Regions from separate parts of the Homo sapiens genome. Here region 1 is linked to region 2. The links come from fine-mapping of genetic effects on gene expression. A gene starts in region 2. The other region holds a variant in brackets. All regions are shown on one strand. Distances are from middle to middle. Region 1 holds the start of CCDC17 (coiled-coil domain containing 17). Region 2 holds the start of PRDX1 (peroxiredoxin 1).

Evidence for each region. PIP is the estimated chance that this variant, and not a neighbour inherited with it, causes the effect.
Region 1: its variant is the best candidate, but not a certain one, in a credible set for the expression of PRDX1 in subcutaneous fat (TwinsUK, PIP 0.51).

What each region holds. Positions count from the first base shown.
Region 1 is chr1:45,621,041-45,636,046 of GRCh38, forward strand. It overlaps CCDC17 (coiled-coil domain containing 17), which reads right to left and starts at 3,014. Exons shown (of 13, transcript NM_001114938.3): 1 at 2,696-3,014; 2 at 2,517-2,612; 3 at 2,177-2,399; 4 at 1,915-2,077; 5 at 1,711-1,794; 6 at 1,509-1,627; 7 at 1,201-1,308; 8 at 837-955; 9 at 598-695; 10 at 241-444; 11 at 1-73. The coding sequence starts at 2,869. It overlaps GPBP1L1 (GC-rich promoter binding protein 1 like 1), which reads right to left. Exons shown (of 13, transcript NM_021639.5): 9 at 13,056-13,196; 10 at 12,449-12,607; 11 at 9,442-9,566; 12 at 8,536-8,638; 13 at 6,264-7,368. The coding sequence ends at 7,216. The variant G/T (reference allele first, on the strand shown) is at 4,132.
Region 2 is chr1:45,515,740-45,530,810 of GRCh38, forward strand. It overlaps PRDX1 (peroxiredoxin 1), which reads right to left and starts at 6,145. Exons shown (of 6, transcript NM_181697.3): 1 at 6,090-6,145; 2 at 3,199-3,315; 3 at 1-68. The coding sequence starts at 3,304. RefSeq lists a silencer at 5,339-5,501 and enhancers at 6,544-6,623, 11,315-11,823.

The DNA of each region.
Region 1 (15,006 bases), 110 kb after region 2:
TGCCCTAGCCCATGCTAGCCCCTGCCAGACCTGCAGCTCACAGACCAAAGATACTGATGATGAGGGTGGTAGTCTGTAGAATAACCAAAAAGCAGTGTCGGAAGCCAGAGCTACAGTCCCTTTCTAGGACTTAGCCCTTTAGAGCCAGCGGCCTCTGTATACAGATGAGAAAACTTAGCAGAATGGTGGATAAGCCTCAACTGTGGCAGAGTACCAGAGTCATGATCCCCACCTACTGACCTGGGCACAGGCTGCCTGCTGGCAAGGATGGCACAGTTGCCCATGGGCCCGGGAGCAGGAGGTGGGGGCAGGCAAAGGGCTGGGGGCAACGCTGTGGTCCTTCCTGTATCCCGTCCATCGCGTGCCAAGCCAGTCCTTAGTTGCACCCAAATCCAGGAAGCCTCAAGGCCCCGCAGGAAATCATAGAAAATGACCAGGCCAGCCCTGGGGAACACAAGTCTTAGCACAGAAATACCCAACTCCTTTCAACCTCCCTCCTCTCAGGCAGGTCCCTAACCCTATCTGGTCCTAGTGGGCTCCCTTAACCAGCAGTGCTGGCCAAGTCACAGAGGCTGTCGAAGGTGGCACGGGCCTCACCCAGGATCATAGGGTGCAGGGCCCAGCATGTCCGATGTGGGCAGGAGGAAGTGTGAGTCCAGGCCCAGGTTTCTGGTCATTGTTCCAGGAAGCTGTGGCTGTGGGGAAGAGAGCTGACTCCTCCAGAAAGCCTTGTAGCTGCTCATGTTCCCCCAACTGCTCAGAGCAGAGCTGCCTCCAACCTGTTCCCCCAACCCACCCCGTGTCCTCACAGCCTTTGCCCCACCCAAGAACTGAACCTCCGAGAAGCCTGGAAGTGGTGGCAGCGGTGGTGCCACCGGTGGCGGGAGGAGTGGGGGATCTCTCCTCCCCTTCGGTTGTAGGCTGGCATCCCCCAGGAGTCGCAGATCCTGGGGCCCTAGGAGCAGAAGAGTTAGGGTGCCCCTAAGTTGGACAAAGCAGGTAATTAGCTGAGATACCCCTCCCCCAAGAGTTGGGCCCACAAATGGGTTGGCGGAGCCCTGTGGATACAGGGATACACACGTGCAGACATGAACTAGGGGAGTCACAAACACGGGTCTTGTTCCCCATGCACTGTCTGCCTGAGCCAGGCCTGCTGGGGAGAGATAAGTGGGATGGGATAGGGTTGGGGTGCTCACTGACCCAAGGGTGCCCGACCCCTCTGCATTTGCAAGGCCAAGATTTCTGCCTCCAAGCGCCGGTTTTCAGCCTCCACTACTGGAAGCTCCCCTGAGGTGGCACCTGCCCTTCCTGCGATGAACAAGTGTGACCTGTCACCTTTGACCTCTGGTGACTGGCCGCGTCCGGCTGTGAGCAGCTCTCCAGCGCTAAGGCTCTTCGGATAAGGCTGGACTTGTCAGCTCACATGCCATCCACAGCCACAGGCCCTCCCTCGAGTTCTTTTCTCCTCCCAGGACTGACCACCGCTGGCGAGAGGCCCTCCTGTTCACCTCTGCGGGTCTGCGACCGCTGCAGCTCCAGTGCAGACGCCTCCACCTGCAACTGCCATATCTGGCCCAGCACGCCGGGGTCCCGGCCCCCGTCTCGAATGTAGGCCTCCCGCAGCGCCCTAGGGAGTGGGGAACAGGAAGGCCGTCTTTCCAGAACTGCTCAGCGCTTCGCCCTATGCCCATCTCCGGCCCCGGCTCTCACCGGATTTCGGCAGCCAGAGTTCCCGGGTTGGCCTTTTGCACTGGAGAATAAAGTTCTGCCTCTCGCCGGGAGCTCAGCGGGTTCCTGGGGTGGCAGGCGACGCGCAGGGAGACGGTAACGCATCAGAGGCCCCGGGGCTGCAGCCAGCCCGCCCCTCCCACCCCGGAGCCGCATGTTCCGGGGATCCGCTTAGTCGGGTCTCACCCTGGCTCCGCCTGCAGCTCCTGAATGCGGGCCCCCAACACCTCTAGAGCTCCCCGCGTCCTCCCGGCCTCAGCTTGTAGTTCTCGAATCTCCTGCTCCAGGCCGAAGAGGCGGGACATCCCGCCCCGCGTACAGGCCACAACTTGGAGGCGTCGGCTCAGTTCTGAGGGAATGCGGGCCGAGTCAGAACCGGCCCGAGCAAGCTTAAGCCAAACGGCGAGGGCAGAGGAGGTCCTTGGTCCCCGTCCCCCATCTCCTTCACCCTCGCCGCGTAGCTGCAGGGCCCGGCTCTGCGCTTCCATCTCCGCCACGCGCCTCGCGCGAGTCCTGAACAGCGCCCGCAGCCGCTCGCTGGGGCTTCCCACCGCCTCGGACATGGGACTCTGAGGCCGCGCCTCGGAACGTGTCCAGGGCCCCGCGAACACCCTGGGGACCTCTGTTATCCAGGGCCGCATTTCCTGTAGGGATAGCCGCAGCCACTGCACCTGGAGGTAACAGCGATCCGCGATCTCTGCGTGGGCAGAATCTGTCCCAAGTATGATCTACAGGTTTGGGGAAGACGCTCAACGTTTTGAGCCCTGGGGGAAGGTAGGTAGCTCTACCTCCTCTGTTAACCTCTTTAGAGCAGATCTACTGGCCTGCTGGTCTGGGAGGCCCTGGGGTTCTTGTGGCACGCCCTGGTGTTCTTGTGGCACAACCTGGGGATAGGGTGTAGTAGGATGAGGAATCATAAAGGTCCTGGCTCCTTTGAATCCCCACCCATGGCCATGGAGGCCCTTACCGCGGCCCGCTGGGGTTCAGTGGCAACTGATGCCTGTGCTCCAAATGTCATCTCTTGGGTCGGGTGGCCAATGCAGAAGCGCTGAGTATGGGTGGCTAACAGAGCTGAGGAGCGGAAAACCATGTCACAGGTCCCACAGGGCAGGAGCGCAGGCTCCCCAGAGTGGGAGTCCATGGGATGGGACCCGTTTCCTGAAACCAGCCAAGACCTGCAGAAGGGATCAAGGGCAGGGGAAAGGCAGAGGAGGATGAAAGAGACATAAAGCCAGAGGCAGAGAGGAAAGGCCGTGTCTATTAGGTCTGTGAGATCTTCAAGTTTGTTTGGGGAGAGCCTTAGCTCCCTGGACAGCAACCACAGGGCTGGGCAGGTCAGGAGAATGGGTGGGGAAACCTCGGCCGTTTGGGAGGAGCCACTGGCTTGAAAAAGTGTTACAAAGTCTGAACGTGGGCAAGTCTCTAATTGTAGCTTGGTTTCCCTGACTATTAATAAAGAGGAAAAAGCAGCTGCCTCCTAGACTAGGCTGGGCCCTTATCACTTACTACATCATTGGTCATTTAATAGCCTCTAAAAGGCAAGTGTCATCTTTTTCATTGCTGTACTCCCAAGTGGATGTAACAGTTTGTACCATTCTCCAATCCAGAGAACTACCTGGCAAAGGAGGCACTCTGACCTTTCCAGCATTCTGCCTGGAAACCATGTCGCACCAGGGATAGCAGTCTCCCTAACTCCCATTCCCTGATTCCTCATTTTTCAGCTGTAGACGAAGATAATCAGCACAGCCCAAGAAATGAAAGCTGTGGGCGAACAGAATGAATCTATCAGATGAGGGAATCAAGTCCAGAAAAAAACCCCTTCTCTCTCCCAAGATTGGCCAGAAGCCAGAAAGACCCTGAACTGTTGGTGAAATTCTTCACTCCACTCCCACTCCCAAAATATATGGAGGAGCTCTGAGGTGACCGCATATTTCTTAAGAAACCCTCTTTACTTTTTTTTTTTTCTTTTTGAGATGGAGTCTCGCTGTCGCCCAGGCCGAAGTGCAGTGGCGCGATCTCAGCTCACTGCAATGAGCTCTGCCTCCTGGGTTCACGCCATTCTCCTGCCTCAGCCTCCCAAGTAGCTGAGACTACAGGTGCCCACCACCACGCTTGGCTCATTTTTTGTATTTTTTAGTAGAGACGGGGTTTCACCATGTTAGCCAGGATGGTCTTGATCTCCTGACCTCGTGATCTGCCCGCCTTGGCCTCCCAAAGTGCTGGGATTACAGGCGTAAGGCACTGCGCCCGGCCAAGAAACACCCTTTTCTCTTCTTTTTTTGAGACAGTCTCGCTCTGTTGCCCAGGCTACAGTGCAATGGCACGATCTCGGCTCACTGCAAGCTCTGCCTCCCAGGTTGACACCATTCTCCTGCCTCAGCCTCCCCAGTAGCTGGGACTACA[G/T]GCACCTGCCACCACACCCGGCTTTTTTTTTTTTTTTTTTTTAGACGGAGTCTCGCTCTTTCGCCCAGGCCGAAGTGCAGTGGCACTATCTGGGCTCACTGCAAGCTCCGCCTTCCGGGTTCAAGCCATTCTCCTGCCTCAGCCTCCCGAGTAGCTGAGACTACAGGTGCCCACCACTGTGCCCGGCTAATTTTTTTTGTATTTTTAGTAGAGATGGGGTTTCACCGTGTCAGCCAGGATGGTCTTGATCTCCTGACCTTGTGATCCGCCCGCCTCGGCGTGCCAAAGTGCTGAGATTACAGGCGTGAGCCACTGCGCCCAGCCTTATGCCTGGCTAATTTTTTGTATTTTTAGTAGAGACGGGGTTTCACAGTGTTAGCCAGGATGGTCTCGATCTCCTGACCTCGTGATTCCCCCGCCTCGGCCTCCCAAAGTGCTGGGATTACAGGTGTGAGCCACCATGCCTGGCCGAAACTCCCTTTTCTAAACAAGACAGGGACTTAAGACATTTCCCTACTCAGTACCTAAAGCCAAGGTATGACCCACCAGCAGCAAGTTACAAAGTGTTCAAAGTATGTCATCTCAGTTCAGCTTAATTCCAACTGACATAAAGAGTACATTTTTAGAAATATGTTCTCAGAAAACAAGTAAATGGCAAAGCCCAAATCAAAACCTCCTTTTCAACAACTAAGTTTGTCCCAATTTTCAATGGTTAAGACTTTTGACTGGTTGACTTTACAATGGTGCAACAGTGATAGGCATTCAGTAGAAATACTACTACCATTTTTTTTTTTTTTCCCTCAAGAGACAGCTTGTAGTTCTCTAATCTCCTGCTCTAGGCCGAAGAGGCGGGAGCAGGACTGTCATCCAGGCTGGATTGTAGTGGTGCCATCATGGCTCACTGTAGCCCTGAACTGCCTTGGAATCAAGCAATCCTCCTGCCTTAGCCTCCCAAGAAGCTGGGACTACAAGTGTGTGCTACCACGTGGACCTGTCTATTTTGTTTCTGTTTTTGAGACAGAGTCTTGCTCTGTTGCCCAGGCTGGAGTGCAATGGTGCAGTATGGGCTCACTGCAACCTCTGCCTCCTGGGCTCAAGCAATTCTCCTGCCTCAGCCTCCTAAATAGTTAGGATTACAGGTGCTTGCTGCCATGCCTGGTTGTTTTTTTTTTTTTTTTTTTTTGAGACAGAGTCTCACTCTTTCTCCCAGGCTGGAGTGCAGTGGCGCTATCTCAGCTCACTGCAAGCTCTGCCTCCTGGGTTCACGCCAATCTCCTGCCTCAGCCTCCCGAGTAGCTGGGACTACAGGCGCCCGCCACCATGCCTGGCTAATTTTTTGTATTTTCAGTGGAGATGGGGTTTCACCATGTTAGCCAGGCTGGTCTCGAACTCCTGACCTCAGGTGATTCACCCGCTTCAGCCTCCCAAAGTGCTGGGATTACAGGCGTGAGCCACGCCTGGCTGGACCTGACCATTTTAATGTTTTTGTTTTTTATAGAGACAGGTCACTGTGTTGCCCAGGCTGGTCTTGAACCCCTGTCCTTTTCTTACATCACTGTCTATTCTCTCCCCTACTGGGCTGGGCACTCCTTGCATCCTCAGAGCCTTGCATAATGCCTGGGACATACAACACGGGCTTAGAAAGTATTTGTTGAATGGGCCGGGTGCGGTGGCTCACGCCTGTAATCCCAGAACTTTGGGAGGCCGAGGTGGGTGGATCACAAGATCAGGAGATCGAGACCATCCTGGCAAACACGGTGAAACCCCATCTCTACTAAAAATACAAAAAATGAGCCAGGCGTGGTGGCAGGCGCCTGTAGTCCCAGCTACTCAGGAGGCTGAGGCAGGAGAATGGTGGGAACCCGGGAGGCGGAGCTTACAGTGAGCTGAGATCGCTACTGCACTCCAGCCTGGGTGACACAGTGAGACTCCGTCTCAAAAAAAAAAAAAAAGTATTTGTTGAATGAAAAAACCTGCTTCCTTCACTAGCCATTCAGCTACCATCGTCCAACTCTCCCCCAACCCCCACTCCAAGTTCTTATTTAGTAGGAAAACAGAACAGACTTCCCTTAAAATACGTACACTGGTAAATACATGGGCACTAAAAAACAGTTTCAGGAAAAAAAAAAAACTTGGTTTCTGACTTTATTACTGGTAATTTATTGCACAGGTTTTTCTGCATCAAAAAAGTATCTGCTAAAATAGAGAAACAGTTGTGTCTGAATTCACATTTCCCCCCAACTTCTAAAAATATTTCCCCTAAAAAAGAATCCACTCATCTAATTTTAAAGAAAATATACTTCTTACACAAGACAATCCAAACTGATGCAAAATATTTATTCCAAGTTAGTTATTTTATGCAGTAGTTTCCCCCTCGAGACTTGTGATAACCACATCTTTTAAATCTGTAAATAATGTTATCAAAATAATCTTAATCTTTGAAATCTCACAAAAATTTATATTTTACAATCCACCCTGAATATCAAGGCTGCAAGAATAACACAACATTTCCTATATCCAAATATTTTACAGCTGTACCCAAAAAGGAAAAAGAAAAAAAAAACAAAAAAAAACAACCAAAAAAACCCACATATGCTTGGTTAAGGGCTAAAGTTACCCGAGCAGCCAAAAATAAAATAAAATATCCAAATTATTAGCATTAATTTAATACAATTATAACTTCAATAGTCACTTTGTCATTGACAATGATTGCTTGATCACAGGGGTGAGTGCCCCAAGGGCTGGTAGTAGAAGCTGTTGCTGCAGACCAGTGTCTCCTCTTCCCTGCACTGCCAGCTCCTACCTGTGCATCGCCCCATATATACTGGGTGTGTATGTGTGTGTGTGTGTGAGTGTGTTTAAAAAATCTGTCCCACCACACAAACTTCTCTCTATAAAGCAGATAACAGGGAAGAACAATAACAAAAGCAAAACAAGCCAATTGCTCTCTCTTTGGGATATGATTATTTCCCTTGTGAATGAAGTATTCAACAACATAAGAAAAGGAAAAGAACGATTTCTTTTGTATACTCCCTAAACACACAGAGTTTACTGGGTCAGATTTAACTGTGAGCATTTATATGCCTACTTCCAGGCATCGTCATCTGATGTTTCACTGCTACTGGTTTCGGTGTCTGAGTCCTCAAACTCTGCTTTGCAAGTGCTTCTCCAAGGGGAGAACAGACTGGAACTGCGGCTCTGCAAGAAGCCATTCTTTCCAAAGCCATTTCTTCTCAGCTATGGTTAGCATGGGAGAGAAAGAAAAAAGAAAAAAATATCAATGACTGTACTGACCCATAAGCCCTGGGAAAGGCCAGGCCTCAATTCAATTCTAGGTAGAATGTGGGGCGGGGGGTGCTTCTAAGAGACCCTCTGAGATCTCTTATACCAGTACTTTTCAAATTTTAATTTACGAGTCATCTACGCATCTTTCAAAAATGCAGATTCAGATTCAGAATGTCTGGGATGGGGCTTGAAAGTCCTTATTTCTTTTTATTTATTTATTTTTTTGAGACGGAATCTCGCTCTGTCACCCAGGCTAGAGTGCAATGGCACAATCTTGGCTCACTGCATCCTCCGCCTCCTGGGTTCAAGCGATTCTCCTGCCTCAGCCTCCCAAGTAGCTTGGATTACAGGCGCACACCACCACGCCTAGTTAATTTTTGTATTTTTAGTAGAGATGGGGCTTCACCATATTGGCCAGTATGCTCTTGAGCTCCTGACCTCGTCATCTGCCTGCCTCGGCCTCCCAAAGTGTTGGGATTACAGGCGTGAGCCACTGTGCCCAGCCATAAGTCCTTATTTCTAACAGAGTTCTAAGTGGCAAGGTCTCACATCAGCTTGTGCCATGCCCCTTTTAAGGACTTGGCCAATTGTGCTGTAAATACAGGCCACCAGAAGTTCAAGGATTTTTATAGAAACCCCATTTGTCTTGTTCACCCTAAGATCTAGCAGTGTTTTATTCAGAGAAAGAATCCAAGCAACTGCTGGATAAACTGACACAAGCTATTTAGCTTCTTAGCTCTGGCCAGAGGACCAGGAAACTACAGTGCAGATCAGGAAGCAGAGGAAGGTGAACCTGCTTCCTTAAAGACCAAGAGCTCAGACCATAGCTCTGGAACACAGCCTTGTGGTTCTGATAAGGAGTTAGAGCTGTTAGGATGAAAGAGCATACTATTTTTTGGAATCTGCTAATCACTGACACTTGGTTTTTGTATATAACACTGGGGATCCTTATTTCCCAGGCAGATTTAGGGGCCCCACTACATTTCTACTAAGGTAATCCCCCCCCCCCCCACCCGATCTTTCTCTCACATTAAACTTGCTCCCTCAGGGCAAGAACTGTCTTGACTCCTTATTCTCCTGGTTACTAACTGGTCTCTAGGAAGAAGGTTTACAACATACCTGCTCTGTCTTCATGTGGAACTCTTTGAGCTCATCCTCTGTGAGGGGAAGGCAATTCTCATCATTTTCAGGATATTCCTGCCAACCCATAGCTTTCAATAACCTGGTGGACGCAGAAGGACAGGTAAAGAGAATACAACATCACTAAGCCTAAGTGAACAGCCCACCACTTTTCACAGAAAAGTTTTCTGCCCAGGGGCAATGGATGTTAAAGAAGGAATTTTGTTTTCCTCCCTGTGGGACAAGCTTTAATTGTGGCTACCTGGGTGCTGTAAATAAATGGAGGCTCTTCACAGTTGAGAGAGGAAGAGCTAAAGAAGAGACAGTAGAAGCAAAACCAAGACAGTGTAAGGAAGAAAGAGAGCACTTGCAGTCTGGCTTTTTTTTTTTTTTGGGATGGAGTCTCACTCTGTCACCCAGGCTGAAGTGCAGTGGTACAATCTCAGCTCACTGCAACCTCCGCCTCCCGGGTTCAAGCCATTCTCCCGTCCCAGCCTCCCTAGTAGCTGGAATTACAGGCGCACACTACCATGCCCAGCTACTTTTTGTATTTTTGGTAGAGACAGGGTTTCGCCATGTTGGCCAAGCTGGTCTCAAACTCTTGACCTTGACTGATCCACCCACCTCAGCCTCCCAAAGTGCTGGGATTACAGGCATGAGCCACTGCGCCCGGCCTGAAGTTAAAAGTATTAAAGTATTGGAGAGTAGATTGTGGAAAAGATGGCTGAGTTTGAGAGAGAATGCTTGATGAGCAACAGGCCAACCTGGGGCATACACAGAGAACAAGTTATGACTGGGCCACTTCTCTCTGCATGTGGGACCTATCTATCTGAGATATCTTCTCCAGTATGTTCAAGGTCCTTAAAGGTCAGACACTGCATGCCCTGTGATGTCCTCCTCACTTACCTGTGCTCTGCTTCTAGAGAGTGTGAGAGAACCTCCCCTTCTTCCACTACAGGGAGGGCAAGACCATTTTGATGACAGCCTTCCTCCCCATTTTCCTTTGGTTCAGGTGTGCTGTTGTCCTCCAACTGCAATAAGGAAAAGGAAGGACACAGTTGGTTTAAGGTTCCTTTGTAGTAATATAAGCAACCTATGAAATCAAGGACTCACGACCCAGGAAGTGTTTTCCAAAAGACAGCCTCAGCCCACAGATTTTTTTCCCCATTTACAAATGAGGACCTGCTGCATCAACAAAACTGATTCTAAAGTTTTAATGAAAAGGCAAAAGATCCAGAACAGCCAACACAATACTGAAGAATAAAACCAGAGTACTGATATTACCTGACATCAAGACTTACCACAAAAGCTGGAGTAATTAAAACAGTATGGTAACAGTGCTCATAAGAGGTGTGGGGGGAAAAAGTGTGGTACTGGCAGAAGATGACACAAATAGTCCAATGGGACAGAACAGAGAGCCCACAAATAGACAACTGATCTTTGACAAAGGAAATACAATGGAGAAAAGATAGTCTTTTCAACAAATGGTGAGGGAACAATTGGACAGCCACACTAAAAAAAAAAAAATCAATCTAAACAAAGACCTTACAGCCGTCACAAAAATAAAGTCAAAATGGGTCACAGACCTAAATGTAAAACACAAAACTATAAAACTCCTATAAGGATAACATAAAAGAAAACTTAGATTACCTTGGGTATGACATTTATTTATTTATTTATTTGTTTATTTACTTACTTATTTTTGGAGATCAAGTCTCACTCTGTTGCTCAGGCTGGAGTGCAGTGGCGCGATCTCGGCTCACTGCAACCCCCGCCTCCCATGTTCAAGTGATTCTCATGCCTCAGCCTCCCATGTAGCTGTGACTATGGGTGCATGCTACCATGCCCGGCTAATTTTTCTGTTTTTAGTAGGAACGGGGTTTCGCCAGGTTGGCCAGGCTGGTCTCAAACTCCTGACCTCAGGTGATCCGCCCACCTCAGCCAACCAAAGTGTTGGGATTATAGGTTTGAGCCACCGTGACTGGCCTACAATTAATTAGGCTGGATTTCATTAAAATAAAAAAAATTTCTGCTTTGCAAAACACTCTGTCAAGAGAATTAAAAGACAGTGTAGTTGCTCACACCTGTAATCCTAGCACTTTCGGAGGCCAAAGGTGGGAGGACTGCTTGAGTCTAGGAGTTTAACACCAGCCTGAGCAACATAGCAAGAAGCTATCTCTGTACCAAACAAAATATTAGCCAGGCATGGTGGCACAAGCCTATAGTCCCAGCTACTCGGGAGGCTGAGGCTGAGGCATAGCTTGAGGAGGGGAGGTCGAGGCTGCAGTGAACTGTGATCATTAATGCCACTGCATTCAGCCTGGGCGACAGAGTGAGACACTGTCTCAAAAACAAATATGGCCGGCTGGGCATGGCAGCTCATGCCTGTAATCCCAGCATTTTGGGAGGCTGAGGTGGGTGGATTACCTGAGGTCTGGAATCCGAGACCAGCCTGACCAACATGGTGAAACCTTGTCTCTACTACATACAAAAAAAATTCCAGAAAATAGTATACTCTTTCATCCTCACAGGTCTAATTCCTTATCAGAACCACAAGGCTGTGTTCCAGAGTTATGGTCTGAGCTCTTGGTCTTCAAGGAAGCAGGTTGGCCTTCCTCTGCCTCTTGTTCTGCACTGTAGTTTCCTGGTCCTCTGGCCAGAGCTAAGAAGCTAAATAACGTGTGTCATGTGGTGGCACATGCCTGTAATCCCAGCTACTTGGGAGGCTGAGGCAGGAGAACTGCTTGAACCTGGAAGGCGGTGGTTGCAGTAAGCTGAGATTGCTCCATTGCACTCCAGCCTGGGCAACAGAGTGAAACTCCATCTCAAAAAATAAAGTAATACAAATAAATAAATATGGCCACATGTGGTGGCTTATGCCTTTAATCCTAGCACTTTGGGAGGCTGAGACAGGCAGAACACTTGAGGCCAGGAGTTCAAGACCAGCCTGGCCAACATGACGAAACTCCATCTCTACTAAGAATACAAAAATTAGCTGGGCGTGGTGGCGGGTGCCTGTAATCCCAGCTACTCAGGAAGCTGAGGCAGGAGAATCGCTTGAACCCGGGAAGCGGAGGTTGCAATGAGCCCAGATCGTGCCACTGCACTCCAGTCTGGGTGATAAGAGCCAGACTCTGTCTCAAAATAAATAAATAAGAAAGAATGAAGAGTCAAATCACAGACTTGGAGAAACTGTAGTCAAAGACACATCTAATAAAGGACTATTAACTAAGATATACAAAGAACTCTAAGAACTCTTAAAACTTAGCAATAAGAAAACAGACAACCTCATTAAAAAATGGGTAAGGGACCTGAACAAACACATCAACAAAGAAGATACATAGATGGATGCTCCACATGATATGTCATCATGGAAGTGCAAATTAAAACTACACACCTATCAGGAGGGCCAAAATCCAGAACACTGATAATATCGAATACTGGTGAGGAGGTGTAGCAACAGAAATTCTCATTTATTGCTGGTGGGAATGCAAAATGGCACAACCACTTTGGAAGACAGTTTGGTGGTTTCCTGACAAGCTAAACATGCTCTTACCATATGATCCAGCAATTGCGCTCCTTGGTATTTACCCAAAGGAGTTGAACTTATGCCAGCACAAAAACCTGCACATGGATGTTTACTGCAGTTTTATTCATAGTTGCCAACACTTGGAAGCAACCAAGATGTACTTCAATAGGTGAGTGATTACTAAAATAAACCCGAATTTAACATTTTTGCTGAAAAAAGGATTAAACTCACTTTACTATGTGGTCTAGAAGGCAGTTACACCTACAGACAGTATCTCTGTACATTTAAAAATCTTGCCACATCTTTATCCTTTAAGAAGAAGAAATCACGTATGTATCAAAGGAAAATTCCTAGGCTACCCCCAGAAAAGGCGGATGCTCTTACATCTTCCAGCTTGTCACAGTCTCTATTCTCTGAGAAGTCTCCATTCCGGTCATCCTTCAGAGTTTTCAGGAACTCACTCTTCCTGTCGGTGGTTCGGCGGGTCAACTTGGTCAGACGAGAGGAGCTGATCTCAATTGGAGGGGTGGTGCTGGAGGGACTCTGGGCAAATACCACAAACAGGTTGCTCCTGACAGCAAAGAGCAAGAACTGGGGTTCTCTTCTACTAAGTGCTGACTTCAAGAATCTGGTAGCCTATTTATCACTCTGTCTTAAACCAAACAATCCTTTTATTTAAGCAGTTCAAACTTCAGTTTTGCAGGGTTTATATAGTTAAGAGCAGCTGGCTTACATGGCACCTCTTTGATCTTTCTACAGACATCAGCAGAATGCCAGTCTAACATAGGATGACCTTGGTCCACCACAGAGCATCTATCCCATTTAGCCACTGCCCACTTTTGGATGCTAACAGAAAACATCAATAAAGAAACTATTCTCAGCTAAATATAGCTACAAAACAAGTGTCACAGCTATACATATTACACTTGTTATCTAAGTGAACGGGAAATGGCAATTTCAGAAAAGACTGTCCTGCTTCATCCTCACTCACCTCTTTGGGAGAACTCAGAGCTGCACCACTAGCCAGTACCACTGGTTTGGTAACAGAGATTGGACTGGTAAAAGCAGACTCCCGGCTAGAGGAAAGGGATCCTGACTTGTGCTCCATCCTGTTAGCTTTCCATGCATTAGGCTACACAGGGTGAAAGAACAAATCAGTCAGAACAAGCACACAAACAGAAGCTCAGCTTATAAAATCATAAAGCAAAGAGTGAAATGTTACATGAGAACATAAGTTTCCAGGGCTTACCTGTCTTAACATGTTTGGGAAGTATGCAACCTCTTTCGGAGGTTAGGCACTTCAAGGAAAATGGTAGATGGGATACAGAAGAGCCATTGGACATTAATAGTGACTTCCCAAAAACAGGGCTCTAGTTCAATAGTTCAATGAGTTTGGGAGGTGCCGGGGTGAAAAAAGTTCAACAAGGTTCTTCACTGTGCAATTTCTCAAAGCACTTAACTGCACATAAGAATTTGAGAGGCAGTTATGCAGCATTTTCCTAATTTATTGAATCCCAAAACTTTTTTTAGTAGTGTTTGTTAACTTTGGATGTAATCCTGATAGCCCACAAAGTGCATCACAAAATTGCTGCTTTCCAGGAACTCTGATGGCAAAAGGCTAGTTCCAGGCCAGGGTGGCTATTGTAAATGGTTGAACAATCCTGATTTATTTAGTCTGGAGGCCCGTCTACTCAACTCTGCAGGGTCTGGGCCCATTCTGTCACTCTGGCCATAACCCCAAGTATGATAGAAAGCTGGAATACTGAGTTACCACACTGTCCAAGGAGACCAAGGAAGATGTGGCAAGCCAGTGGAGTGGTGCTGAAGCAAATGAAAAACTTCCAACTTATTTTTCCAGAATGAAACACTTAGAACAGAGGACCTCCAGGACAAAGGGGCCTGAGTGAAATGGATTCCCTTCCTGGTTGCTTTCTTGATTGATGGGTATTAAAAGAAGACACAATAATAGCTTTAGGAAAGGAATTAACTTTACTATCTACCATGTACCAGGTGATGGTCAGTCTGTTTTATTTAATTCTTAAACCAATCAGGAATAATAATTGTTACGCTGACTTTTAATAGAGGATGACACTGACAATAAGGAAGTTCCACAATTTGTTCAAGGTTATTCAGCTAGTAAATGAAACCACCTTTCCACTATCCCAAAATGCCTCCACAAAGAACAAGCAAGCAGATAAGAGAAACGATGACCCAACCAGAATGAAGATTAATTTTTTTCTTGCATTGATAAAAATCTAAAGATGGTTGCTTGTGTCAGGTTAACTCTCAAAGATGATTTGTGGCTTCCCCTGAGTTGTAGTCACCAGATGTCCTGTCTTTAAAACAATGTCACTCCAGAGCACAGAAACACTTGGGTTTCTGCCACAGTAGTACAAAAGATTTACTCTGTTACATAAAACAGAATATCTATGTCTGTGCCAATTTTATTTCAACTTAATTTTCAGTAACTTAAACCCTATGAGATAGCTAGACTACCCCCTGGAAAAATCATTATGCCCCACACCTGTTTTTATTAGATGATTATACATGTAAAAGTCCATTAAAGTGAATTGTATAACCAGTTTTTTTTGTTGTTGTTTTTTAAATGTTCTCTCCTTTTCCTCTAAATTCTGAATCAACCCTAGCTTGCTCCACTTCAGAATCTTCTTCTACTGGACTAAAAATTCTAAAATCACTGGGCTCAAACTTTCTCCCACCTCCTCTGCCGTTTGCCCCTCAAGTTCAAAGGAATGTCCTCCTCCCTTTCTAGCACTTTCTTCTCTTTCCTTTTGGGTTTATCAAATATGCTAATCCACCTTATTGAAATTAGGAGAAAAAGGCCAGACTTCTTATTTTCCCTCAATCTTATATACCACCTTCTTATTGCCAAACTTCTGAGTAAGTCAGTATACATTATCTTTCACTCGTTCATTAACTATTTA
Region 2 (15,071 bases):
AGCAATGATCTCCGTGGGGCACACAAAGGTGAAGTCAAGAGGGTAAAAGAAGAACACAACATATTTTCCTGGGGGGAAAATCGGAGTCATGGTTAGCATTTGACACAGACTTCCTTGCTTTATATTTTCCTATACAAAAAGAAGCAAGTTGATGGCTGACACAATAACCACTAACTGCCAAGATGCTCAATACAGATGTCTCCTAGAAGCTACTTTTAGAACCTGGTGCATTAGGAATACCTGAATGAAAAAAACTTCCAATCCCATACTTTATTCTCCTGCCTCCATGTCATAGCTACCAATACAGAGTAAACACTGTTCAGTCTAATTTTGATCTTTTCTGAGTGGCTAAAATTAACATAAACACCAAGTTCTCCAAAGATAGCAAAAGCAAGGATGCACTTATAAGCATGGCCTAATGCCAATGCTTAACAATACCCAGAGAAAGCTGAATTGCAGTACTCCTCTGCTGTAGAGATAAGACACCAATAAGAAGTCACAGCCTTTGCACTTCTCCCGTGATGAACCATAGTAATGGAACAAGCATGGTTTAAGTGATCACATGTGTTCCTAACGTGCCTGACAGGACAGGAAAAATTTTAAGCCAGGCACAGTGGTGCGTGTCTGTAGTCCCAGCTACTTGGGAGGCTGAGGTGGGAGGATCCCTTGACCCCAGGAGTTTGAGGCCAGCCTGGGCAACACAGCAAGACTGTCTCAAAACAACAGAAATATATATATACATATACACAGAGAGAGAGAGAGAAAGAGGGAGACAGAGAGAGACAGAAAAGACAAAAGTACTAGTGAGTAACAGAACTTCTAGCTGCAATTTTAATGAAGTCACTGGGATTAACCACTGAAATAACAGATCTTCAAACTGGCCAGGCAGCCTTCTCGCCACACCCACCAGGCTTAAATACTAGAACAATTCCAAATATTCACTCATTTCCAGGTAGCAGCAATGTTTGAAAAGTCAAACAGGCTGGGTGTGGTGGCATGGTGGCTGACGTCTGTAATCCCAGCAGTTTGGGAGGCAGTTTGGGAGGCCGAGGCGGGTGGATCACCTGAGGTCAGGAGTTCAAGACCAGGCTGACCAACATGGTAAAACATGTCTCTACTAAAAATACAAAAATTAGCTGGGTGTGACAGCGGGGGCCTGAAATCTCAGCTACTGGGGAGGCTGAGCCAGGAGAATCACTTGAACCGGGGAGATGGAGGTCGCAGTGACCTGAGATCATGCCACTGCACTACAGCCTGTGCGACAAGATCAAAATTCCACCTCAAAAAAAAAAAAAAAAAGCCAAACAAGCAGCCCTTTTTGACATTTACCACTTTGCAGTATCACTGGAAACTAACTCATCTAAACAACCCTTCCAGCTTTGCCTAACAAGCACTTTGGGGCCTCAGCAGGTCAAGCTCTGGAGGGCAGAGAACAGCTCCTCCTAGACCTCCTGCTTATACCCCTGGGCCCAGGTCACCTCCCTATGGTGCAACTTACCTTGTTTGCTGGGAGAAGCCCCAAGAACAAAGTGTGATTATGTCAGGAAACCTAGTCAAATGTTCTACCAAAAACTAACTCCAGGGACTAATGCTACACCACTGAGAAAAGGACACTTGACACCTGAGTTTCAGGTTAGCATTCTAAGGAATCTATATCCTCAACTGTCCCAGGAGATCGAGCTGCTCTGGAACTACAAGGTAAAGAAAGGAGGAGCCTCAACAGAACTTGCCAAGTGTCTGCATGAAACTATGACAACAGAGGCCGGGCGCAGTGGCTCACGCCTGTAATCCCAGAACTTTGGGAGGCCAAGGCAGGCGGATCACAAGGTCAGGAGATCGAGACCATCCTGGCAAACATGGTGAAACCCCGTCTCTACTAAAAATACAAAAAAATTAGCCAAGCATGGTTGCGGGCGCCTGTAGTCCCAGCTACTCAAGAGGCTGAGGCCTGAGAATGGCATGAACCCAGAAGGCGGAGCTTGCAGTGAGCTGAGATCGCACCACTGCACTCTAGCCTGGGCGACAAAGCGAGACTCCGTCTCAAAAAAAAAAAAAAAAAAAAAAACTATGACAACAGAAAGGAGAGTTGTTCCATCTGTAATATCAACTCTCCTCCGGGGTCAAAACAGGCAAGGGAAAGTGCCTAGCCCTCAGCCTAATATTAACAGCTGTGATATATACGTGACCCAAACAAACTGAACGAGCAGTGTCACAGCTCCAGAGATTTGAGTGAGCTCTGAGACTTTAAATGTAGAATGTCTCTTATAACAAGAGATAATGAGTATTTCTCCAATAATAAAATAGAGGAGGGCCAGAGGCAGTGGCTCACACCTGTTATCCCAGCACTTTGAAAGGCTAGGGCAGGCAGAGGGCTTGAGCCCAGGAGTTGGAGACCAGCCTGGGCAACATGGCGCCCAGCTCTACAAAAAGTACAAAAATTAAGCCAGGCGTGGTGGCTCATGCCTGTAATCCCAGCATTTTGGGACGCCGAGGTGGGCGGATCATCTGAGGTCAGGAGTTCGAGACCAGCCTGACCACCATGGAGAAACCCCGTCTCTACTAAAAATACAAAAAAAAATTAGCCAGGCATGATGGCGCATGCCTGTAATCCCAGCTACTCGGGAGGCTGAGGCAGGAGAATTGCTTGAACCTGGGCAGTGGAGGTTGTGGTGAGCCGAGATCACGCCATTGCACTCTAGCCTGGGCAACAAGAGCAAAACTCCATCTCAAAAAAAAAAAAAAAAAAAAAAAGTACAAAAATTAGCCAGGCATGGCAGCATGCCCCTACAGTCCCAGCTACTTGGGAGGCTGAGGTAGGAGGACCACCTGAGCCCAGAGAGGTAGAGGCTGCAGTGAGCCATGACTGCGCCACTGCACTCCAGCCTGGGTGACAGAATGAGACCCTGTCTCAAAAATAAAAATAAAGAAAGAAAATAGACGAGGAATACTGAAAAGATAATTGAGCTAGTATGTCCAGACATAATGAAGCATGTGGTTTCTCCAGAAGTGGTTTGGTCCTAGGATATATACCCTGTAATCACTTGATAATCACCACTTCAACATGAAGGTAACAACCTAAATACTTCTTCCTAGGAGACAAAACATTTTACAGTCAAACAACATTGACACAAATCTAACAAGCCACCCCTAGAATATAAAATAACTCCATCTCAATGAGCCCAGTGTTAATTCTCTCACCTTTGTAGTCAGACAGGCTGATATCTTTAAACTGACCATCTGGCATAACAGCTGTGGCTTTGAAGTTGGGGGCAGGGTGCCCAATTTTAGCATTTCCTGAAGACATCTTCCTATCAGCTAGAAATAACAGAAATGAATTAGAAACAAGCCTTAATTTTCTACATAACCAGCAGCCTTCACCTACTTAAAGAGACTTAGCTGTAAACAATCAAGGCATTGTCCAGTGTCCCTGAATACATTAAATGTTGTTTTAGTAAGAAGCTCCAGCCAGCAGTCAAGGGTCACAGTCTGAGCTTTCCAACTTTTGGAACGAAACAAGTCTCTGAATCTCAGCCTTTGTTTTCATTTAAAAACAGCAAGGCAATTTCTTTATATACTGAGATAACCTCTCATTCTTTCTGAACCATAATTAGTGCAGTGGCATCTTATTCATTATACAGAAGCAGAGAGAGAGGCAGATGAAGACTCTCAAACCAGAATCCAAATGCACAATGCCACAAACACTTTTGTTTGGCTCCCCAAAAGTCACGTTGACCTTTCCCATCACTGTGCCTCCACCTGCCTTCATAACATCAGAAGCATATTTGACTTTTCTCCAGGTAGCTTTGTCCAAGACAGCACACAACCTATAACTAATTCAACTTGTTTTATTTGTTTTTGTTTTGTTTTGTTTTTTTGACGGAGTTTCGCTCTTGGGGCCCAGGCTGGAATGCAATGGCATTATCTCGGCTCACTGCAACCTCCACCTCTCAGGTTCAAGGGATTCTCCTGCCTCAGCCTCCATAGTAGCTGGGATTACAGGCGCAGGCCACCACACCCGGCTAATTTTTTTGTACTTCTATTAGAGACGGGATTTCTCCATGTTGGTCAGGCTAGTCTCAAACTCCTCACCTCAGATGATTGCCCAACTCAGTCTCCCAAAATGCTGGGATTACAGGCGTGAGCCACCGCGCCCTTCCAGTCAGTCCAACTTTTAAGAGGCAAGACCACTGGGCGCAGTGTCTCACACCTGTAATCCCAGCACTTTGAGAGGCTCAGGCGGGCGGATCACCGGGTCAGGAGTTCGAGACCAGTCTGGCCAACATGGTGAAACCCCGTCTCTACTAGAAACACAAAAATTAGTCGGGCGTGGTGGTGCATGCCTGTAATCGCAACTACTCAGGAGGCTGAAGCAGGAGAATCACTTGAACCCGGGAGGCAGAGGTTGCAGTAAGCTGAGATCGCGCCACTGCACTCCAGCCTGGGCAACAGAGTGAGACTCTGTCTCCAAAAAAAAAAAAAAAAAAAAGAGGCAAGACCAAGATATTGATTGGCATCTGCTTAATTTCAAATCTTTAGGTATTGTGTAAGCCCTAGAATTCCCTTCACCATTTGTGAAGGTGGGTTCCTGACTTTGGGGCTAATATCCCAGGGCGAAAACAAGTATAAGAATCAATTTACTGCTGAAAAGGAAGGTTGCACTGGATTCACCCAGATCAACACCAAGATTAGTATTGAGATCTTGGCCAAGCGCTGTGGCTCAAGCCTGTAATCCCAGCACTTTGGGAGGCCGAGGCAGGCAGATCACCTGAGGTCAGAAGTTCGAGACCAGCCTGGCCATCATAGTGAAACCCCGTCTCTAACAAAAATACAAAAAATTAGCCGGGGGTGGTGGCACGCGCCTGCAGTCCCAGCTACTCGGGAGGCTGAGGCAGGAGAATGGCGTGAACCCGGGAGGCGGAGGCTGCAGTGAGCCGAGATCCAGCCACTGCACTCCAGCCTGGGCGACAGAGCGAGACTCCGTCTCAAAAAAAAAAAAAAAAAAAAAATACAAAAATTAGCCGGGGCTTGGTGGCACAAGCCTGTAATCCCAGCTACTCCTAAGGCTGAGGCAGAAGAATTGCTTGAATTCGGGAGACAGGGGTTGCAGTAAGCCGAGACCGCGCCACTGCACTCCAGCCTGGCCGACAGAGCGAGACTCTAGCTCAAAAAACAGAGATTTAACCCACTAAGCCGCGGTCTGAAAGCTTTTCCAAGTCCCAAAGTTCTTAGTTCACAATACCACAAGCAAAAGAAATTTTGTAAGCATGGATCTTAGCAAACTTTTAACTGTTTTTTAAAAAGTCCTTAACACCTTTAACGACAAAAAACAAAAACCAAAAACTAAGGCATGCTGCAACTTGGTGCCCCCAAATGGCCTTCTCGTCCAATCCTTCTTTCCCAAGTGGCCCCCAAGTACAAAACCCAACCAATTCGGGGTAAAGGCTGCTGGGATTCAGGCCGCCACCGGGCCCCTTCAGGGGATCTGCCCAGCGTAGAGGGCCACATCCCTAAACCCCACTTCAGGTGCCCCCTGTCCCTCCCCAGCACTGGAGAAAGCACCAGCAGAGAGAGTGCTTCAGCGGGGACATTTGGGCTCATCGCTAACTCCATTCCACGTACAGGAAAATAAAGACGGGGAAAGGGTACCCGAAGCTCCGCAGCTAGTCAAGGCTCAGGACCCGGAACAGCCAAATACATAGAGGCTGTCTTCTACAGCCACGAGTCTGGATACAGGTCCATTCCAGAAGCTTCCCGAACCCACCCCGTCCGGCAGGAGGCTAGTCTCGGAGACCCCCACCACCAGCCCGCCCAGACGCCGCGCCACGTGCTCGAGTTGCCGGGGGAAGACTCGACTCGAGTCCACGCTTGCCTTGGGGTTCAACCAGGTTCCCGCACCTACGTGGGGGGCCCACGAGAGGGGTGTGCGCAGCGCTCAAGCAGTCTCGGACTCCGGGCCTCCCCCGGCTGCCTCACGCATCACAGCACCCCCACCCGAGCGCGGGCGGGCCCCGGACAGGAGGAGGAAGAGGCAACAGGCAAGAAGGGCGCGCCGCGCCTCACTCCGCAGGGGCCGCACTGCCCACACTCACCAGTCCCAACACAAGTCGCAGAAACTAACCACCGACACCAGGCAAGAACAAGACGCGCAAGAGCTCTCCGGGGCGCTGCCTTTATAGCCAGTAGGGATCTCGCGAGAGTCGGAACGGACGGGGGTGCCGGAGGAGGAGAGAGAGGAGGGGGATGTGGCCCGAGCCCCGCCCGGCGCGCCCCGCCGGAATGACTCGGCGCTTTCCCTCGTTGGGGCGGGTGCGGAAAAATACTAATACCCCACCCTGTTGCGGATGGCTGAGGTTGGAGTGAGGCGCCCTTGTGGCCGCTCCCGAACCCGAACGCTTAGGTTAATCCTAGATCTCTGCGGAAAACCAGGATTCTCTTTACTTCCAGGACCACTACGCACTGTGCCCTCAATGCCCAAACTGGAGTAAGCGTCTTAGCTGCTGCCCACGGAGGACCACGTCTAACCACACCAAGCCATGAGAACTGTCTATCCAAATATTTCTTAAGTTCGCAGCCTTAACCCCAGCGCAGATCCTCAGTAACCCTCATGGCTTAGATAGCTTCCTTCATTGTTCTCTTTAATTACAGGGTTGCTGCTTTCTGTTGTAAAGGAAAATAAAATATCAGGACTCCTAAACTTACGCCAGAGGGAAAGTTCATCTTGGGAGGCTGATTCAGTTACACGACCATCCTCTCCCCGGATGAATAATTTGACTTTACAATCTTGAGTCAAAACATTACACATTAGCCAGACCCACACGGTAAGGCAAAAGGCCTCAGACATTTCCTGATGACTACCCCCCACAAACACACATACACAAAATCATAATTAATTATTTGCTCCCCTGGAAACCTTTAAAGTATGTAGCCTCCCATAAAACAAGGACGTGTCAATTGCAACTAGATCTACAATATAAAGTCTAGTTCCTAAAACTAAAGTTTGTTCTATTCCACATTTTTTTGAGACGGAGTCTCACTCACCCTGTCGCCCAGGCTGTAGTGCAGTGGCACGGTGTTGGCTTACTGCAACCTCCACCTCCCGGGCTCAAGCGATTCTCCCGCCTCACCTCCGGAGTGTCTGGGACTACAAGCACGCACCACCACGCCCAGCTAATTTTTTGTATTTTTAGTAGAGACGAGGTTTCATCATGTTGGCTAGGCTGGTCTCCAACGCCTGACCTCAGGTGATCCGCCCGCCTTGGCCTCCCAAAGTGCTAGGAATGTAAGCGCGAGCCACCGCACCTGGCCTCTATTCCACAAATTCCATAAATGTTCACTACTAGATTACCTTTCTACTAGACTACTTTCTACCTTTCTAGTAGTACCTTACTACTAGATTACCCTGAGTCCACCACATAATTGTTTTCTTCCTCCATTCCCTTTTTCTTCAAACATTCACCTTATCTTATGTAAAAATGTAGATTTAGGCCACCTAGGAGGGCGGATCATAAGGTCAGGAGATCGAGACCATCCTGGCCAACATGGTGAAACCCTGTCTCTGCTAAAATACAAAAACTTAGCCGAGTGTGGTGGCGCGCCTGTAGTCCTAGCTACTTGGGAGGCTGAGGCAGGGGAATCGCTTGAACCCGGAGGCAGAGGTTGCAGTGAGCCGAGAGCACCACTGCACTCCAGCCTGGCAACAGAGCAAGACTCCGTCTCAAAAAACAAAACGTAGATTTCCTGAGCATTAGCTAAAGTCTTTGCCTCAATCTTTCCCACCCCCACTTTTCAAGGAAAATGTATAAATACTAAAAACCTCCTGAGAACCTCTTGGGAAGAAACAGCCACAAAAGTGTCTGTGACATGGTTTAGTCAGTTTAGTCACTCATTTCAATTAACACTATCTCTTATCCATCCCTTCCACTGCAGCTGAAGGAAATCTTTCTGAAGTCTGATCATGTCACTGTTATTCGTGGTTTAAAAGCTGGGGAAGAAACAGCCACAAAAGTGTCTGTGACATGGTTTAGTCAGTTTAGTCACTCATTTCAATTAACACTATCTCTTATCCATCCCTTCCACTGCAGCTGAAGGAAATCTTTCTGAAGTCTGATCATGTCACTGTTATTCGTGGTTTAAAAGCTGGGGCTAAAGAAAGAAAGAAAGTAAAATTTAAAAAGAAAAGAAAAATAAAAAATAAAATAAAAGCTGAGGCTCTGTAGTCAATTTACTGAGTTAAAACTCCTCACTGTCAGGGCCGGGCGCGGTGGTTCATGTCTGTAATCCCAGCACTTTGGGAGGCTGAGGAGGGCAGATCACCTGAGGTCAGGAGTTCGAGACCAGCCTAACGTGGAGAAACCCCATCTCTACTAAAAATACAAAATTAGCCACGTGTGGTGGCGCATGTCTGTAATCCCAGCTACTCTGGAGGCTGAGGCAGGTGAATCGCTTGAATCAGGGAGGCAGAGGTTGCAGTGAGCTGAGATAGCGCCATTGCACTCCAGCCTGGGCAACAAGAGCGAAACTCTGTCTCAAAAAAAAACACACACACACAAACACAAAAACTCCTCACTGTAATTTTAGGTGTGAACTTGGGCAAGTCTTAAACTCATTAAACCTTACTTTTCTCAACTGTAAAATGGGAATAATATTAATACTTTATTGTGATTATCTATGTAGTTCAGTACAGTACTTAGTTCTTATTATAAATTAGAAATGTTAGCTGCTATTAGTATAACTCTTCCATCCTTCACACTTATAACACCCAGAACACAGTGTAGTTGTTTCAAGCCTTCAGACTTTTTTTTTTAAGATGGAATTTCGCTTTTCTTGCCCAGGCAGGAGTGCAATGGCACGACTTCTGCTCACTGCACCCTCCACCTCCAGCGTTCAAGCAATTCTCCTGCCTCAGCCTCCCAAGTAGCTGGGATTACAGGCGCCCACCACCACGCCCGGCTAATTTTTTGTATTTTTAGTAGAGACGGGGTTTCAGTATGTCAGCCAGGCTGGTCTCAAACTCCTGACCTCAGTTGATCTACCTGCCTCAGCCTCCCAAAGTGCTGGGATTACAGGAGTGAGCCACTGAGCCCGGCCGCCTTCAGACTTTTGTTTGAACCTGGAAAACTCTTTCCCTGGAGAAAACATGTCTTTCAGCATTACTTTCTCTCCGGCTGTTTCTTACCTTTACTCATTCCCAGGATTTACAATTCCCCTCCTTTGTGTCCAAACAATAGCTTGTATAGCCAAAAAAATCTTTTAAGCAATTTTAGTTTTACATTTCTTCCTCTGCCTGCTAGAGTGACTTTCTGGAGAGTAGGATGTGGGTGACATCTGTCTCTGTGTCCCCAAAGTCACAACAAAGCATCTGATATAAAATAGGAGCTCAGTCAGTGAGCATTCAATCAATAGTATCATGTTTCTGTCTCTGTCCCCAGCTCCCTCACTAACTCCCTTGGCCCTTATAGTGGGATAATGAATGAGGAAGTGCTGTCTCATGCTCATTGAGCATCTCAATTTTTGTTATTTATCATACTACTTTGCATAGACGTGATTTATTTGCTTTTTCCTTCTTTGCCTGAGGCTGAATAGTTAGTTGGCATTATTCCTTTTTTTAATTTTTATGTAACTTTTATTCTTTTTTATCAGGCAGCCACCCGAGCCAGCAGCCAGCGTAGGCTCAGAGAGACTCCCCTTTCTTTCTTGCAGGAGCAAGGGCAGCATGAAAGTTCAGAGCTTAATAATGGATGGTTATTGGCTATGGGCAGGCTAAACCAATACACAGTACATACAGTCATACTTCAGCCCAAAGAAAATTGCCACCTATTGTATTCACCATATGCCAGGCATTGGGCTGGGCACTTGAGTTTATTTTTCTAATTCAAGAACAAGGCCAGGCACGGTGGCTCATGCCTGTAATCCCAGCACTTTGGGAGGCTAAGGCGGGCAGATCACAAGGTCAGGAGTTTGAGACCAGCCTGGCCAACATGGAGAAATCCCATCTCTACTAAAAATACAAAAATTAGCTGGGTTTCGTGGTGTGCACCTGTAGTCCCAGCTACTCAGGGGGCTGAGGCAGGAGAATCTCTTGAACCCAGGAGGCGGAGGTTGCAGTGAGCCGAGATCGCGCCACTGCACTCCAGCCTGAGTGACAGAGTGAGACTCCGTCTAAAAAAAAAGAACAAAAGCCGGGCATGGTGGCTCAAGCCTGTAATCCCAGCACTTTGGGAGGCCAAGGTGGGCAGATCATGAGGTCAGTAGTTCCAGACCAGCCTGACCAACATGGTGAAAACCTGTTTCTACTAAAAATACAAAAATTAGCTGGGCGTGGTGGCAGGCACTTGCAATCCCAGCTACTCAGGAGGCTGCAGCAGGAGAATCACTTGAACCCGGGAGGCAGAGGTTTTAGTGAGCTGAGATCCCGCCACTGCACTCCAACCTGGGCAACAGAGCAAGACTCTGTCTCAAAAAAAAAAAAAAAGAAAAAAGAAAAAAAGAAAAGAAAAAAGAACTAAAAGAGAGTGGAGCACATTTGGCATGTGACTATAGTCCCAGCTACTTGGTAGGCTGAGGTGAGAGGATCACTTGAGCCCTGGAGTTTGAGCCCAGCCTAGGCAGTGCTGCAAGAACCAGTCTCTAAACAAACAAAGAAAAAAAAACAGGAAAAAAAAAGAGTTATCCTAGCCTAGAGAAATGTTAACAGTCTATCCCCTTAAGATCATAAAAGTGAAATAACTGGACAGAGTACTGAAAAAAGAAGAAATCTGTTGAACAAGTCTAAGTGATTTGTAGAGTCTCTCCAAAGGACAGTAAAGATTTCAGAACCATGGGGAGGAGGCTTTCTTGCAGGGTCTGATGTATACCTCTAGTTCTATTTTTAGATATATTCCATTGTGCTCTCTTCATTTGCTCACCATTAGCATGGGAATTATTCCCCTTGTTTTATTTATATTTGTAGTAACAAGTCTAGCACAGTAACTGGCATAGAAGTACTTAATAAATGTTACAATGTGTTGAAGACTTTTGAGATGTAGAATTAAATTATTTGAACTACGTTTCAGGAAGTTGACTCTGGAAGCTGTGTGATGAATGAATTTAGTGACTAGGAGATTAGGCAAAGAGAGCAATTGGGAGGCCACGGCAATGATCCAGACAAGAGAAGTCTCAGAACTGTAATATGACATTAGCAGCAGGGTAGAAAGAAGGAAATACAAGGTATATTTCTTCAGGCTTTAGGATTAATTGGATTTAGGATGAAAGGAAAGAGTAAATTAAATCCAGTTTCTTGGTGACATGAGTGATGTCATTAACCTGTGACATAGGAAACACTGGAAGAAAAGCAGGTTTGAGGTTTAAAATAATGTTAAACAGGCCGGGAGCGGTGGCTCACGCCTGTAATCCCAACATTTTGGGAGGCCAAGGCAGGAGGATCATCTGAGGTCAGGAGTTCGATATCAGCCTGGCCAACATGGTGAAACCCCGTCTCCACTAAAAACACAAAAATCAGCTGGGCATGGTGGTGGGCACCTGTAGTCCCAGCTACTTGGGAGGCTGAGGCAGGACAAGTGATTGAACCCGGGAGGCGGAGGTTGCAGTGAGCCAAGATGGCACCACTGCACTCCAGCCTGGATGACAAGAGCGAGACTCCATCTCAAAAAAAAAAAAAAAAATGCCGGGTGTGGTGGCTCATGCCTGTAATCTCAGCACTTTGGGAGGCCGAGGCAGGTAGATTGTCTGAGCTCAGGAGTTCAAGACCAGCCTGGGCAACATGGTGAAACCCCGTCTCTGCTAAAATACAAAAAAAAAAAAAAAAATTAACCGGGTGTGGCAGTGTGCCCCTGTAATCCCAGCTACTTGGGAGGCTGAGGCAGGAGAATTGCTTGAACCCAGGAGCAGAGGTTGCAATGAGCCAAGATCGCACCACTACACTCCAGCCTGGGCAACAGAACAAGACTCCGTCTCAAAAAAAAAAAAAAGCAGTAGTTACATCACTGCACTAATTTGCTGTGGGAGACAGTTACCTGACTCATCAACAGCCATTGTCTCTTCTTCACAGCCAACTAAATGTAAAAGGTAAGGCAATTCAATGTAAGTATAAAGCCCATGTCCCAGGACAGCAATCATTTTAACAGTAGGACTTGCTAACCTGATAGCAGCCTGCTATAAACTTATAAACCATTAAAATTAAACCTATAAACCATGAAACTAAATGCTCTCAGATAATTGTAACAACAAATGCAAAATAAAATAATGGACGCCGGGCATGGTGGTGCATGCCTGTAAAGCCAGCACTTTGGGAGACCGAGGTGGGCAGATCACTTGAGCCCAGGAATTTGAGATCAACCTGGACAACATGGCGAAACTCCATCTGTGGGGGAAAAGCAAGAGAGATCAGATTGTTACTGTGTCTGTGTAGAAAGAAGTAGACATAGGAGACTCCATTTTGTTCTGTACTAAGAAAAATTCTTCTGCCTTGAGATTCTGTTAATCTATGACCTTACCCCTAACCCCGTGCTCTCTGGAACATGTGCTGTGTCAAACTCAGGGTTAAATGGATTAAGGGCTGTGCAAGATGTGCTTTGTTAAACAGATGCTTGAAGGCAGCATGCTCCTTAAGAGTCATCACCACTCCCTAATCTCAAGTACCCAGGGACACAAACACTGCGGAAGGCTGCAGGGACCTCTGCCTAGGAAAGCCAGGTATTGTCCAAGGTTTCTCCCCATGTGATAGTCTGAAATATGGCCTCGTGGGAAGGGAAAGACCTGACCGTCCCCCAGCCCGACACCCGTAAAGGGTCTGTGCTGAGGAGGATTAGTATAAGAGGAAGGCATGCCTCTTGCAGTTGAGACAAGAGGAAGGCATCTGTCTCCTGCCCGTCCCTGGGCGATGGAATGTCTCGGTATAAAACCCGATTGTACGTTCCATCTACTGAGATAGGGAAAAACCTCCTTAAGGCTGGAGGTGGGACATGCGGGCAGCAATGCTGCTTTGTAAAGCATTGAGATGTTTATGTGTATGCATATCTAAAAGCACAGCACTTGATTCTTTACCTTGTCTATGATGCAAAGACCTTTGTTCACGTGTTTGTCTGCTGACCCTCTCCCCACAATTGTCTTGTGACCCTGACACATCCCCCTCTCCGAGAAACACCCACAAATGATCAATAAATACTAAGGGAACTCAGAGGCTGGCGGGATCCTCCATATGCTGAACGCTGGTCCCCTGGGTCCCCTTATTTCTTTCTCTATACTTTGTCTCTGTGTCTTTTTCTTTTCCAAGTCTCTCGTTCCACCTAACAAGAAACACCCACAGGTGTGGAGGGGCAACCCACCCCTTCACCATCTCCACAAAAAATAAAAAATTAGCCCAGTGTGGTGGTGTGTGCCTGTGGTCCTAACTAGTCCAGAGGCTGAGGTGGGAGGATTGCTTGAGTCCCAGAGCTCGAGGCTGCAGTGAGCCGAGATGGCACCACTGTACTCCAGCCTGGGTGACAGAGTGAGCAGAGTGAGACCCTGTCTCAAAAAATAATAAAATAAAATAATGGGAACCCAAATCACAAGACAGCACTCATTTTTCTTTTATTTATTTTATTTTTTTTGAGACAGAGTCTTGCTCTGCTGCCCAGACTGGAGTGCAGCAGCATGGTTTCGGCTCACTGCAACCTCCACCTCCTGGGTTCAAGTGATTCTTGTGCCTCAGCCTCCCAAGTAGCTGGAATTACAGGTATGTGCCACCATGCCTGACTGATTTTTGTATTTTTAATAGAGACAGGGTTACGCCATGTTGTCCAGTCTGGTTTCGAACTCCTGGTCTCAAGGGATTCACCCATCTCGGCCTCTCAAAGTACTGGGATTACAGGCTGAGTCACCACTACCGGGCTTATTTTTCATACAGATGATTTAGAATATGTTTATGTTAAATTTTTTTAGATTATCACTAAAAGAAAACAGTTGAATTCTTCAATTTACAAGGATTCAATTTTTAAAATTATATTTGAATGTACAGAGGCCTACAAATACCAATTTCAGAAACACTGTTATCAAGGATATCTATTTGTTAAAATTGAATGCAACTGAAAGTAACAGATTAACTGCAAATAACAAGCTTAACCAAATAGGGGATTAATTTTTCCCATTTAACAAGGAGACAGGGCCGGGCACAGTGGCTCACGCCTGTAATCCCAGCACTTTGGGAGGTCGAGGCGGGTGGATCACTTGAGGTTGGGAGCTCAAGACCAGCCTGACCAACATGGAGAAACCCCGTGTCTACGAAAAATACAAAATTAGCCGGACGTGATGGTACATGCCTGTAATCTCAACTACTCGGGAGGCTGAGGCAGGAGAATGGCTTGAACCTGGGAGGTGGAGGTTGCAGTGAGCCAAGATCGCGCCATTTGCATTCCAGCCTGGGCAACAAGACGAGCTCCGTCTCAAAAAAAAAAAAAAAAAAAAAAAAGCAAGTAGACAGGGCCAGGTGGAGTGGCTCATGGTTGTAATCCCAGCATTTTGGGAGGCCGAGATGAGAGGATCATTTGAGCTCAGGAGTTGGAGACCAGCCTGGGCGACATAGGGGTACCCATCTCTACAAAAAATTAAACAAACAAACAAAAAATAGCCAAACATGATGACGCATGCCTGTAGTCCCAGCTACCCAGGAGGCTGAGATGAGAGAATTGATTGAATCTAGGGGGTTTAGGCCACAGTGAGCCATGAATGCACCACTGCACTCCAGCCTGAGCAACAGAGCAAGACCCTGCCTCAACAAAAAAAAAGCAAAACAAAATGATAAAAAGCAAGTAAGGCAGGGCACAGTGGCTCACGCCTGTAATCCTAGCACTTTGGGAGGCCGAGGCAGGCAGATTACTTGAGGTCAGGAGTTCTAAACCAGCGTGGCCAACATGGTGAAACTTCGTCTCTACTAAAAATACAAAAAAAATAGCCAGGCGTGGTGGTGGACACCTGTAATCCCAGCTACTCTGGAGGCTGAGGCAGGATAATCGCTTAAACCCGGGAGGCGATCATGCCACTGCACTCCAGACTGGGCTACAGAGCAAGGCTCTGTCTCAAAAAAAAAAAAAAAA